Regions from separate parts of the Homo sapiens genome. Here region 2 is linked to region 1. Evidence: fine-mapped expression QTL. A gene starts in region 1. The other region holds a variant in brackets. All regions are shown on one strand. Distances are between the middles of the regions.

What was found. PIP is the estimated chance that this variant, and not a neighbour inherited with it, causes the effect. A credible set is the group of variants that fine-mapping cannot tell apart.
Region 2: its variant is the best candidate, but not a certain one, in a credible set for the expression of LRRC47 in subcutaneous fat (FUSION, PIP 0.51).

Annotation. Positions count from the first base shown.
Region 1 is chr1:3,793,533-3,799,048 of GRCh38, reverse strand. It overlaps LRRC47 (leucine rich repeat containing 47), which reads left to right and starts at 2,551. Exons shown (of 7, transcript NM_020710.3): 1 at 2,551-3,187. The coding sequence starts at 2,573. RefSeq lists enhancers at 2,370-2,664, 5,005-5,516 and a silencer at 2,780-2,989.
Region 2 is chr1:3,764,662-3,769,661 of GRCh38, reverse strand. It overlaps CCDC27 (coiled-coil domain containing 27), which reads right to left. Exons shown (of 12, transcript NM_152492.3): 9 at 3,050-3,127; 10 at 2,217-2,429. Among named protein-coding and RNA genes, the nearest start is that of SMIM1, 5.6 kb to the left of the region's middle. The variant C/T (reference allele first, on the strand shown) is at 2,726.

The DNA of each region.
Region 1 (5,516 bases):
ACTAGAAACAGGCTAGAATTTGGTATCATTGCTACAAAGAGTCAGCTTTGTCAGTCTTTTATTGTTGTTGTTATTTTGAGATGGAGTCTCGCTCTGTCACCCAGGCTGGAATGCAGTGGTGCAATCTTGGCTCACTGCAACCTCCGCCTCCTAGGTTTAAGCAATTCTCCTGCCTCAGCCTCCCGAGTAGCTTGGATTACAGGCGCCCGCCACCATGCCCAGCTAATTTTTGTATTTTTAGTAGGGATGGGTTTTCACCATGTTGGTCAGGCTGGTCTCAAACTCCTGACCTCAAGTGATCCACCCGCCATGGCCTCTCAAAGTGCTGGGATTACAGCCATGAGCCACCACACCTGGCCTGGCTTTGTCAGTCTTAAAGTCTGTGTTGATATTAATGATGGTCAGGTGGGCCTGAATTCCCAAAGGGAGGAGAATATAATGAGGCATGTCCAACCCCTACCCCTCCACATCCGACCCTTCCCATCATGGCCTGAACTAGTTTTTCAGATTAACTAGGGAATGCCCTTGGCCCAGAGGAGGGGTCCACTCAGATGGTTGGGGGGCTTAGAATTTTATTTTATTTTTATTTATTTATTTTGAGACGGAGTCTCACTCTGTCGCCCAGGCTGGAGTGCAGTGGCGCAATCTCCGCTCACTGCAAGCTCCGCCCTCTGGGTTCTTGCCATTCTCCTGCCTCAGCCTCCCGAGTAGCTGGGACTACAGGCGCCTGCCACCAAGCCCGGCTAATTTTTTTTGTATTTTTAGTAGAGACGGGGTTTCACCGTGTTCACCAGGATGGTCTCGATCTCCTGACCTGGTGATCCGCCCGCCTCGGCCTTCCAAAGTGCTGGGATTACAGGCATGAGCCACCGTGCCCAGCCTCTAGAATTTTATTTTTTGGCCAGGTTTGGTGACTCACACCTGTAATCCTAGCAATTTGGGAGGTTGAGGCAGGTGGATTGCTTGAGTTCATGGGTTTGAGACCAGCCTAGGCAACATGGCAAAACCCCAGCTCTACAAAAAATACAAAAATTAGCCAGGCGTGGTGGCACATGCCTGTGGTACCAGCTACTCAGGGGCTGAGGTGGGAGGATCACTGGAGCCAGGGAAGTTGAGGCTGCAATGAGCCGAGCTGGAACCACTGCACTCCAGCCTGGGTAACAGAGCAAGACTCTGTCTCAATAAATAAATAAATAAATAAATAAGAATTTGGGGGCTGGGTGCGGTGGCTTGTGCCTGTGAGCCCAGCACTTTGGGGGGCTGAGGCGAGCAGATCACCTGAGGTCAGGTGTTCGAGACCAGCCTGGCCAACATGGCGAAAACCGGTTAATATAAAAATTATATTAACACGGTTAATATAAAAATTAACCGGCCACGGTGGCATGCACCTGTAGTTCCAGCGGGAGGCTGAGGCAGGAGAATTGCTTGAACCCAGGAGGCGGAGGTTGCAGTGAACCAAGATAGCATCACTGCACTCCAGCCTGGGTGACAGAGCGAGACTCCGTCTCAAGAAAAAAAAAAGAATTTTGGTTTTGGTTTACACCACTCAAAAGTGCAGGAATTCCAAAACAAGCCGGTCGGGGCACAGTAGAGCACAGACTCTGGCTCCTCCATCCGCCCGCACCCCACCCTGTGAAAGGAAAATAAATCTCAAAACCCCACAATCACTAAGTCAAAGGAAAAAGTCAAGCTGGGAACTGCTTCGGGCAAATCGGCCTCCCGTCTTATTCCTAAATAAGATAGTTACAAATACATATTTTTAAAGCTACACACCTCCCTCACAATTTGCCCACAAAGAAATTCTCTGTGGGCCTCAAGATCTTTACCCTAAAACAGTTCTGTTGAATTTCACCCTGGCAATGCAAATTGATAGCTTCCCTTCACAGGTGCGAGACAAAGGACTGAACTCAAAGCCATCCCTCTGCTCACCTAGACAAATGCATATCTGATCGCTTCCTTTGCTCTACTGTTTACGTAGAAATGAAGATTCAGTAAGCCAGACTAAAGCATAAGCGACTATTCCTCTACCCGCGTCTCACATGCATAATAAATTGTGCAGTCAGCGAAAGGCTGAACAAAGACTCAAAAGAATGCACCCTCCGGTCTCTTCTCTACCTGTGACCTGAAAGCCCTCTCCTGGAATTGTCCAGCCTTTCTGGGCTGAACCAAGGTACACTCGCACGTGTTGATTGATGTCTCACGTCTCCCCAAAATGTACAAAACCAAGCTGCATCCCAACTTCCCTGGGCACCATCGTCACGATCTCCTAGGGTTGTGACACTGGCGTGTCCTTAACCTTGGCAAAATAAACTTTTTACATTTCATTGAGTCCTGTCTCAGATATTTTTGGGTTCATAACCCCCACCCTCACCCCTACCCGCGGAGAGAGCGAGCCGCTCTCCAGCCCCTCCCCGGCTCTACGCAGGAGAGGCCACTCTCCTCTATGGCACGCGCGGCGGCACTCTAGCAGCCAGGTGGCTTCTCTATGGGCTTTTCCGGCACAGGTCGGAAGTGGCGCGCGCTGCCCCGGAAGCACCCTGGTGGGTGGGTGCCTGCCAGCAGCTGAGGCGCCATGGCGGCGGCAGCGGTGTCAGAGTCTTGGCCGGAGCTGGAGCTGGCTGAGCGCGAGCGGCGGCGGGAGCTGCTGCTGACGGGGCCCGGGCTGGAGGAGCGAGTGCGGGCGGCGGGTGGGCAGCTGCCGCCGCGGCTTTTCACCCTGCCGCTGCTGCACTACTTGGAAGTGAGCGGCTGCGGGAGCTTGCGCGCGCCGGGGCCTGGCCTGGCGCAGGGCCTGCCGCAGCTGCACAGCCTCGTGCTGCGGCGCAACGCGCTGGGGCCCGGCCTGAGCCCCGAGCTCGGGCCGCTGCCTGCCCTTCGGGTGCTCGACCTGTCGGGCAACGCGCTGGAGGCGCTGCCGCCGGGCCAAGGCCTGGGCCCCGCCGAGCCGCCGGGCCTTCCGCAGCTGCAGAGCCTCAACCTCAGCGGCAACCGGCTGCGCGAGCTGCCAGCCGACCTGGCGCGCTGCGCCCCGCGCCTGCAGAGCCTCAACCTCACCGGCAATTGCCTAGACTCCTTTCCCGCCGAGCTCTTTCGCCCCGGCGCGCTGCCCCTGCTCAGTGAACTGGCGGCTGCTGACAACTGCCTCCGAGAACTCAGCCCCGACATCGCCCACCTGGCCTCGCTCAAGGTCAGCGGGGGCTGCCCGGGCGGGGCGGGATGGGGCCTTGGAGTAGCCCTGGAGAAGGAACCCCTCTCGGGGCCGAGCAGTTCCTAGTGACGCCCCCTGGGGCACTGGGCCCAGGGAATTCCTACAAGGCTGAAAGGAGCCAGCTGCGGGGGGCATCACCCCTGGGAAGCAGATGCCGCCTTCCAACTCCCCCTTCTCCTGGCCACACCAACATACTAGGTGGCCTCTGAACTCCCCCGCATTCTGTTAACTGGACTTTTACACGTGGTACGCTATTTTGTAATTGTTAGCAAACCTGGCTTCTCCTGTAGATCGAGCGTAGAGACCTGTCTTTTTTGTATCTAGTACTTGTGAAGTGACTTGAGAGTGAGTCTGGTGGTGAAGGGGGCACCCTGGATTTTGCATAATGCCACATGCTGTGATCTTGAAGATTATATTTCACTTCATCCTAATAGCAGCTTTCCAAGGTAGGGGTGGTTATTCCTGTTTTACAGAAAGCCAAAGGGCCTGCCCAAAGTAAGCAGCAGGTAACTTGGGTTTTTCTCCAGACTATATTGTCCAGCGTCTGTTTACTAATTAATCTTGGATCCCCAGGCCCCGCGATAATGCTTGGCCTATAACAGGTGCCCATTGAATCTGTTGCCTAAAAGAAAGTAGGGAAGCCACATGGCAGAACCACGACCTAAACCCAGCCAGATGTTCTCTCCATCTTCTCTTTTGGTTTCATCCTTAAGGCAGTCCTGCATTTCTTCCCCCATTTTTCGTCTTTGAATTTATGCAGACATTTCTTTTTTTTTTTTTTTTTTTTGAGATGTAGTCTGGTCCTGTCACCCAGGCTGGAGTGCAGTGGCGCGATCTCGGCTCACTTCAACCTCCGCCTCCCGGGTTCAAGCGGTTCTTCTGCCTCAGCCTCCTGAGTAGCTGGGCTTACAGGCGCACACCACCACGCCCGGCTAACTTTTGTGTTTTTAGTAGAGACGGGTTTCACTGTGTTGGTCAGGCTGGTCTCGAACTCCTGACCTCATGTGATCCGCCTGTCTCGGCCTTCCAAAGTGCTAGGATTACAGGTGTGAGCCACCGCGCCTGGCCTATGTGGACATTTCTTAATAAAATACGTATACACTTTAGCAGCTTATCTATTTATTTGCTGTAGCAATTCCTCAAGACATTGCAACTCATTTTACAAGTAACATATCTATATAAGGATATATAGACAAACCCTGGCCGGGCGCGGTGGCTCACACCTGTAATCCCAGCACTTTGGGAAGCTGAGGCGGGCAGATCGCTTGAGGTCACACCACCAGCCTGGCCAACATGGTGAAACCCCATCTCTACAAAAATACAAAAATTAGCTGGGCCTGGTGGCGCGTGCCTGTAGTCCCAGCTACTCGGGAGGCTGAGGTGGGAGGATCACTTGAGCCCAGGAAGTGGAGGTTGCAGTGAGCTGTGATACCAGCCTGAACAGAGCGAGACCCTGTGGCAAAAAAAACAAACCCACTGTAGAGTGACACATGGTTACTGATGTAACTGCCCAATGGGTTCATTTTATCCACTACCCGGATAGAGCTGATTTATCAGGGCAGGAGGGTTGCAATAGAGAAAGTTTTACACATGTAGAGCCAGCTAAAGTGGAGACTGGAGTTTTACTGTTATTATTATTGTTGTTTGAGATGGAGTCTCGCTCTGTCTCCCAGGCTGGTGTGCAGTGGTGCAACCTTGGCTCACTGCAAGCTCCGCCTCCCGGGTTCACGCCATTCTCCTGCCTCAGCCTCCCGAGTAGCTGGGACTACAAGCGCCCGCCACAACACCCAGCTAATTTTTCGTATTTTTAGTAGAGATGGAGTTTCACTGTGTTAGCCAGGATGGTCTCGATCTCCTGACCTCATGATCTGCCTGTCTTGGCCTCCAAGGTGCTGAGATTACAGGCATGAGCCACCGCGCCCGGCCGAGTTTTATTACTAAATCAGCTTCCCCAAAAATTTGGAGGCGGGGTTTTTCAAGGATAGTTTGGGGAAAGGGGAGGGTGGCTAGGCAACGGGTGCTTGCTGCTGATTGGTTGAGGTGCAATCATAGGGGTGTGGGAAACGGTCCTGCTTACTGAGTCACTTCTGGCTGGGGCTGCGGGGAGCTCTTTTTGGTTTCAGGTAGAGCCATTGATCAGACATGCAAAAACCCTGAAAAGACACAGCTCAGAAGGCCGGTCTTAGGTTCCACAGTGCTGCTAGTGCTGTTATCTGCAGGAGTCACTGGGGAAGTCGCATATCTTGTGACCTCCAGAAGAATAGCTGGCAGTTGTTTATGTCTACCCCTTAGCAGAATTCAGGTTCCT
Region 2 (5,000 bases), 29 kb after region 1:
CATGGCTTTAGAAACTGGAAACAGGTGTCAGAGAAGTCAATGTGGATTGTCTGAGAGCTAGGAGGTGCCGGATCCAACCCCTGACCCTGTGCGGCCCAGCCCCAAAGCCCAAAGACTCTCCTACACCAGGTGGGCTTTTCTAATTGGAAAGTAAAACCTACACACACATATATATATATTTTTAAACCAACAAACCAAAATAGTACAGAAGCCGCACGTAACCCCTGGACCATCCTCCACTGCCCAGGGGAGCTGCAGTGAGCGGACTTCCTGGCCCTTGGGGACACTCTCACTTTAGGCATTTAACAGTGCGCTGCTGGTGCTTCCTCCTTTCCATGCTGACTAGGAGGTGTCTGTGCCATGGACAGCAGCGTTGAACCTGGCCCCCGCGCACAGACCCAGAAGGCGTTCTCGTCTTCTGCTGCCATGAAGATCCTTGTCTGCCTGTACACCCGCAGCCGCCTCCCCAGAGGTAGCTAATCGTGCCTCCCAGGAAGCTGCAGAGGAAACCCCTCCAATCTGCACCCCAGGAGCCTCAGACAGGAACCCCTTGAGTTATGCGGCACGCTCAGCACGAGTTCCTCGTCCAGAAACCCTGACGACGCAGAGGTGCCCCACAGGAGCTGGGCCCGAGAGGCTCAGCCTTGCCTCCGAGTGGAAGCATGTCCACACTGCCGCTCGGACAGGTTTAAGTGACAGCAGGAATGTCATGGGCCCCTGGCCTGTGTGAGGAGTGGAATCCTTTCCTTCTTTCCAGTATTTATTGAGCGCCCAACTTTGTACAAACACCGTGCCAGGTGCTGGAGGTCGTGAGGTCACAAGGGGCTGGGCCTCTGTACTGGGGGTCCCTCCCCAGGGTAGAGGTTGGCAGCTACCCGGGGTGTCCAGCCTCACTTCCCCACACCCGTGGGGCCTCACCATCAGGCTTGGCGCTAGTTCCTGCTCACCCGGACTTAGCTTCACAATATTTCTCAGCTCAGCTTTCCAGGCTCCACCAGGTCAGTGCAGGCTGGCGCACAAATGGACACACCTAGACCGCCTCTGGTCTAACGCTTTCACCAGGACTACGGCTGGATCCCAAACTGTTTTATCAAGGGATACCAGGGGTGGGTGCCTCAGTCTGACCCAGCCGGAAGGAGGTGGACTCAAGCAGGAAAGAGGACGCAGTTGAGTTGCAGTTGGCATTTCTGGTGGGAACCTGACTTCAAAAGCCTCCATACATGACCTTGACCTTTGCTTAATTTTGGATTCTAAATCAAGGTCAGGGCCAGGCACGGTAGCTCACACCTGTATTCCCAACACTTCGGGAGGCCAAGGCAGGCAGATTGCTGGAGCCCAGGAGTTCAAGACCAGCCTGGACAGCATAGTGAGACCGTCTCTACAAAAAGCTTTTAAAATTGGCCAGGTATGGTGGCACATGCCTGTGGTCCCAGCTACTCAGGAGGCTGAGGTGGGATGACGACAGCTTGAGCCTGGGAGGCCAAGGCTGCAGTGAGCTGTTATCACCCCACTGCACTCCAGACTGGATGACAGAGAAAGACCCTGTCTCAGAAAAAAAAAAAAAAAAAAAAAAGGTCAGCTCTTTATTGATTTCCTTTTTGGCATGGGGCCCTCACAAGCAGGGCACACTCTGGCCTTGCTCACGTTTCATATGACACCCCAGTGGAGCCCTGCAGTTGAGACTGCCAAATCCCAGCACCACCGCAAAGCAGGTCTGCTGTCCAGGGGGACTGTTCATCCTTTCCTATTTGTCTACTAAGTGAGGATCATGATAACTACTTCGCAGTCTGGTTAAAGGAGCTACATGACTTTGATACCAAGAAGGTACTTAGAATGGTGCCTGGTCCAGCAAGCACGCTATGACTCAGAGATGAGGGGGGCAACACCATGCCTCCCTATCCAGGTGCCCTCCTCCTTTCCAGCCAGTGATCCAACCCCTTCACAATGCAACCCAAGACCCGCAGCCCTGCCCATGGGGCTCCGCCCACCACTGCCATTGACGAACATTTCCGGGCTACTCTGTTGCACTCTCACTCCGTCCTCTACCCACATTTCTTGAGTGTCAACTCTGTGTGGATGCTGGTGTACACGGCAGAACCAGCCCGAGCCCCAGCGTACACAGACCCCGGTTCTACCTCGGTGGGCGGTGGGCAGAGGCCTGGGTGCTCGGCCGCCAGCTGCTGGGACAGACCCTCAGGAGGAAGGGCTGGGCATACCCTGGACTGGGAGCTCTCCAGGGCCACGCGGGTGTGCTGCTCTGCCTGCTGAATCATCTCCTTCTTGCTCTGCAAATCCTCCTGCAGCTGCTTCCACCTCTGCAGGTGGTTCTGGTCCAGTTCCACCTGCTCCTGCAGCTGGCTGACCTTGGTGTCCAACTCTGAGATGACACAGTCCCGCTTGGTGAGCTTTCTCTCCAGTTCCGACACTTGCTGGGGACAGCCGGGGAGAAAAAAGAGGTGGGGTCATTTCGCCCAACCTGAGTATGTGTGGCACCCATCCACTTTTTCCTAAAAGATGGCCGGCGGCCAGGTGCAGTGGCTCACGCCTGTAATCCCAGCACTTTGGGAAGCTGCGGTGGGCGGATCACGAGGTTAAGAGATTGAGACCAGCCTGACCAACATGGTGAAACCCTGTCTCTACTAAAAATACAAAAATTAGCTGGGCATGATGGCAAGTGCTGGTAGTCCCAGCTACTCGGGAGACTGAGGCAGGAGAATCACTTGAA[C/T]CCAGGAGGCGGAGGTTGCAGTGAGCTGAGATCACACCACTGCACTCCAGCCTGGTGACGGAGCAGGACTCTGTCTCAAAAAAAAAAAAAAAAAAAAAAGGACTGGGAACGCTTGCTGGGTCCCTCCAGTCCAGTCTGGACCCAGCAATTGCGAGGAGCCTTCTGTGTGGACGTGGGGTGCAGAGATCTGTCGAGTGGCATGCTACCGAAGGGGTCCTGGCTCAGCTGTGAAGACGCTCCAGCCCCGTCTTGCCCTTTGCTGTGTTGGGACTTACAGTAAGAACAGTGGCCTGGCTGATCATTTAACGACACCCAGGCTGTCACCTGTCGGAGGAGCTGGTTGTCCTTTTCAATGAGCCCCATCATCTCTTGGTGTTTCTTATCTTCTCGGAGGTTGGAGAACTGGAAGGAGACAGAAGGGTTGGCTTGGGGGACTCCCAGGTTTAGATAACAGACTGAATTCCGGCATCTAACTTTTTTCCTTCCCCAAAGCTCCCTAAAATAATAGCAGCGGGATTTCTATTGAAGGCAGGGAGAAGAGAAGAAGAAAAAGGACTAAAAATATTTTGGAGAGTTTGAAGGTGGCTGAGTGGTATCTGACATCCCAGATCCAAGAAAGCCAAATAGCCGGCAGTAGGAAAAGCAGAAAATAAGCCCAATTCACACTTGAGTTCCTAAAAGTCTCAGACATTGTTGGTCTGGGTTCTTCTAAACATGGAGGCTAAAATGAGGATGATTGGTGGAATGTTATTTCAGAAATGAAGAGCCCTAGGCCACGTGCAGTGGCTCACACCTGTAATCCCAGCACTTTAGAAGGCTGAGGTGGGTGGATCACTTGAGGTCGGGAATTTGAGAGAAGCGTGGGTAACATAGATCCTATCTCTACAAAAAATAAGAACATTGGTTGGGTGTGGTGGTGTGCACCTGTGGTCCCAGCTCCTCAGGAGGCTGAGGCGAGAGGATCACCCGACTCTGGAGAGGCTGAGGCTGCAGTGAGCTGTGATCACACCACTGAACTCCAGCCTGGGTGACAGAGTGAGAACCCATCTCAGAAAAAAAAAAAAAAGGAGAAAAGAAAAGAAAAGAAACTCTCCATTAAAATGCCAAAGCAAAGCACACTGCTCTGCCAGGGAGCACAGAGTGGTCACCTGTGTGCTCAGAGTCCAGTCAACTCGAACATTGGAGCAAAGCTCTCAGATGAATGACAGACACCAAAAGCAAACTTGTAGGAAATAGAAGTGGTGCAAGAAGTTAGAAAACTAACAGTATGATGAACGCTGTCATCAAGGGAAAATACTGCAATTGTGAAGCCAAACAAGAGTGCGCTTCAAAAAAAGAAAAATGGAACACTCAGAGAACATCAGAGTAAAATATTATAACAAAATGAAAAGAGCTGTTGATAAAGTTAAGGAAATCTTCTAGAAAGTATCGGTAAGAGACAAAGAGACAAAAAGGTTGAGATAACAGATAAAACAAGAGCGGGACAGGAGGTCCAATAGTGTGAGAGAAGGCCATAAAAAAACAATAAAACCAAAGAAAATTCCAGAACTAAAGGACATGAGTTTCCAGATGGCCACTGAGTGCCCAATACAACAGATGAAAACACACCCTCAATAAAGCACAACTCTGGGAGGTTTCAGATCACCTGGGACAAAGATAGGATCTTACAACTTTCCAGAGAGGAACAACCAACCCAGAAGGAACCATGAACGACTTTGGACTTATCATCGGCCAACCTGGAAGACAACAGAGGAAGGCCTCTGTGATGCTGAAGGAAAATGGTTTTCAAACAGGAATGCTATATCCAACCCAGATGTTATGAGGGTATAGAGTAAGGACATTTGCCAACATATCCTGTCCCCAAAACTTTACCCCTGTTCATCGTTTTTTTTTTTTTTTTTGAGATGGAGTTTTGCTCTTGTCGCCCAGACTGGAGTGCAATGGTGCAATCTTGGCTCACTGCAACCTCCTTCTCCTGGGTTCAAGCGATTCTCCTGCCTTGGCCTCCTGAGTAGCTGGGATTACAGGCATCCACCATCACACCGGTTAATTTTTGTATTTTTAGTAGAGCTGGGGTTTCACCATATTGGTCAGGCGGGTCTTGAACTCCTGACCTGAGGTGATCCACCTGCCTCAGCCTCCCAAAGTGCTGGGATTACAGGTGTGAGCCATCGTGCTCAGCCTCATTTATCCTTTTTGATAAAACTACTGGAGGATGTGCTCCACCAAAAATAAGTGAAGAGGGCAAGAAAGCAAAAGGTGTGGGATGCAGCAG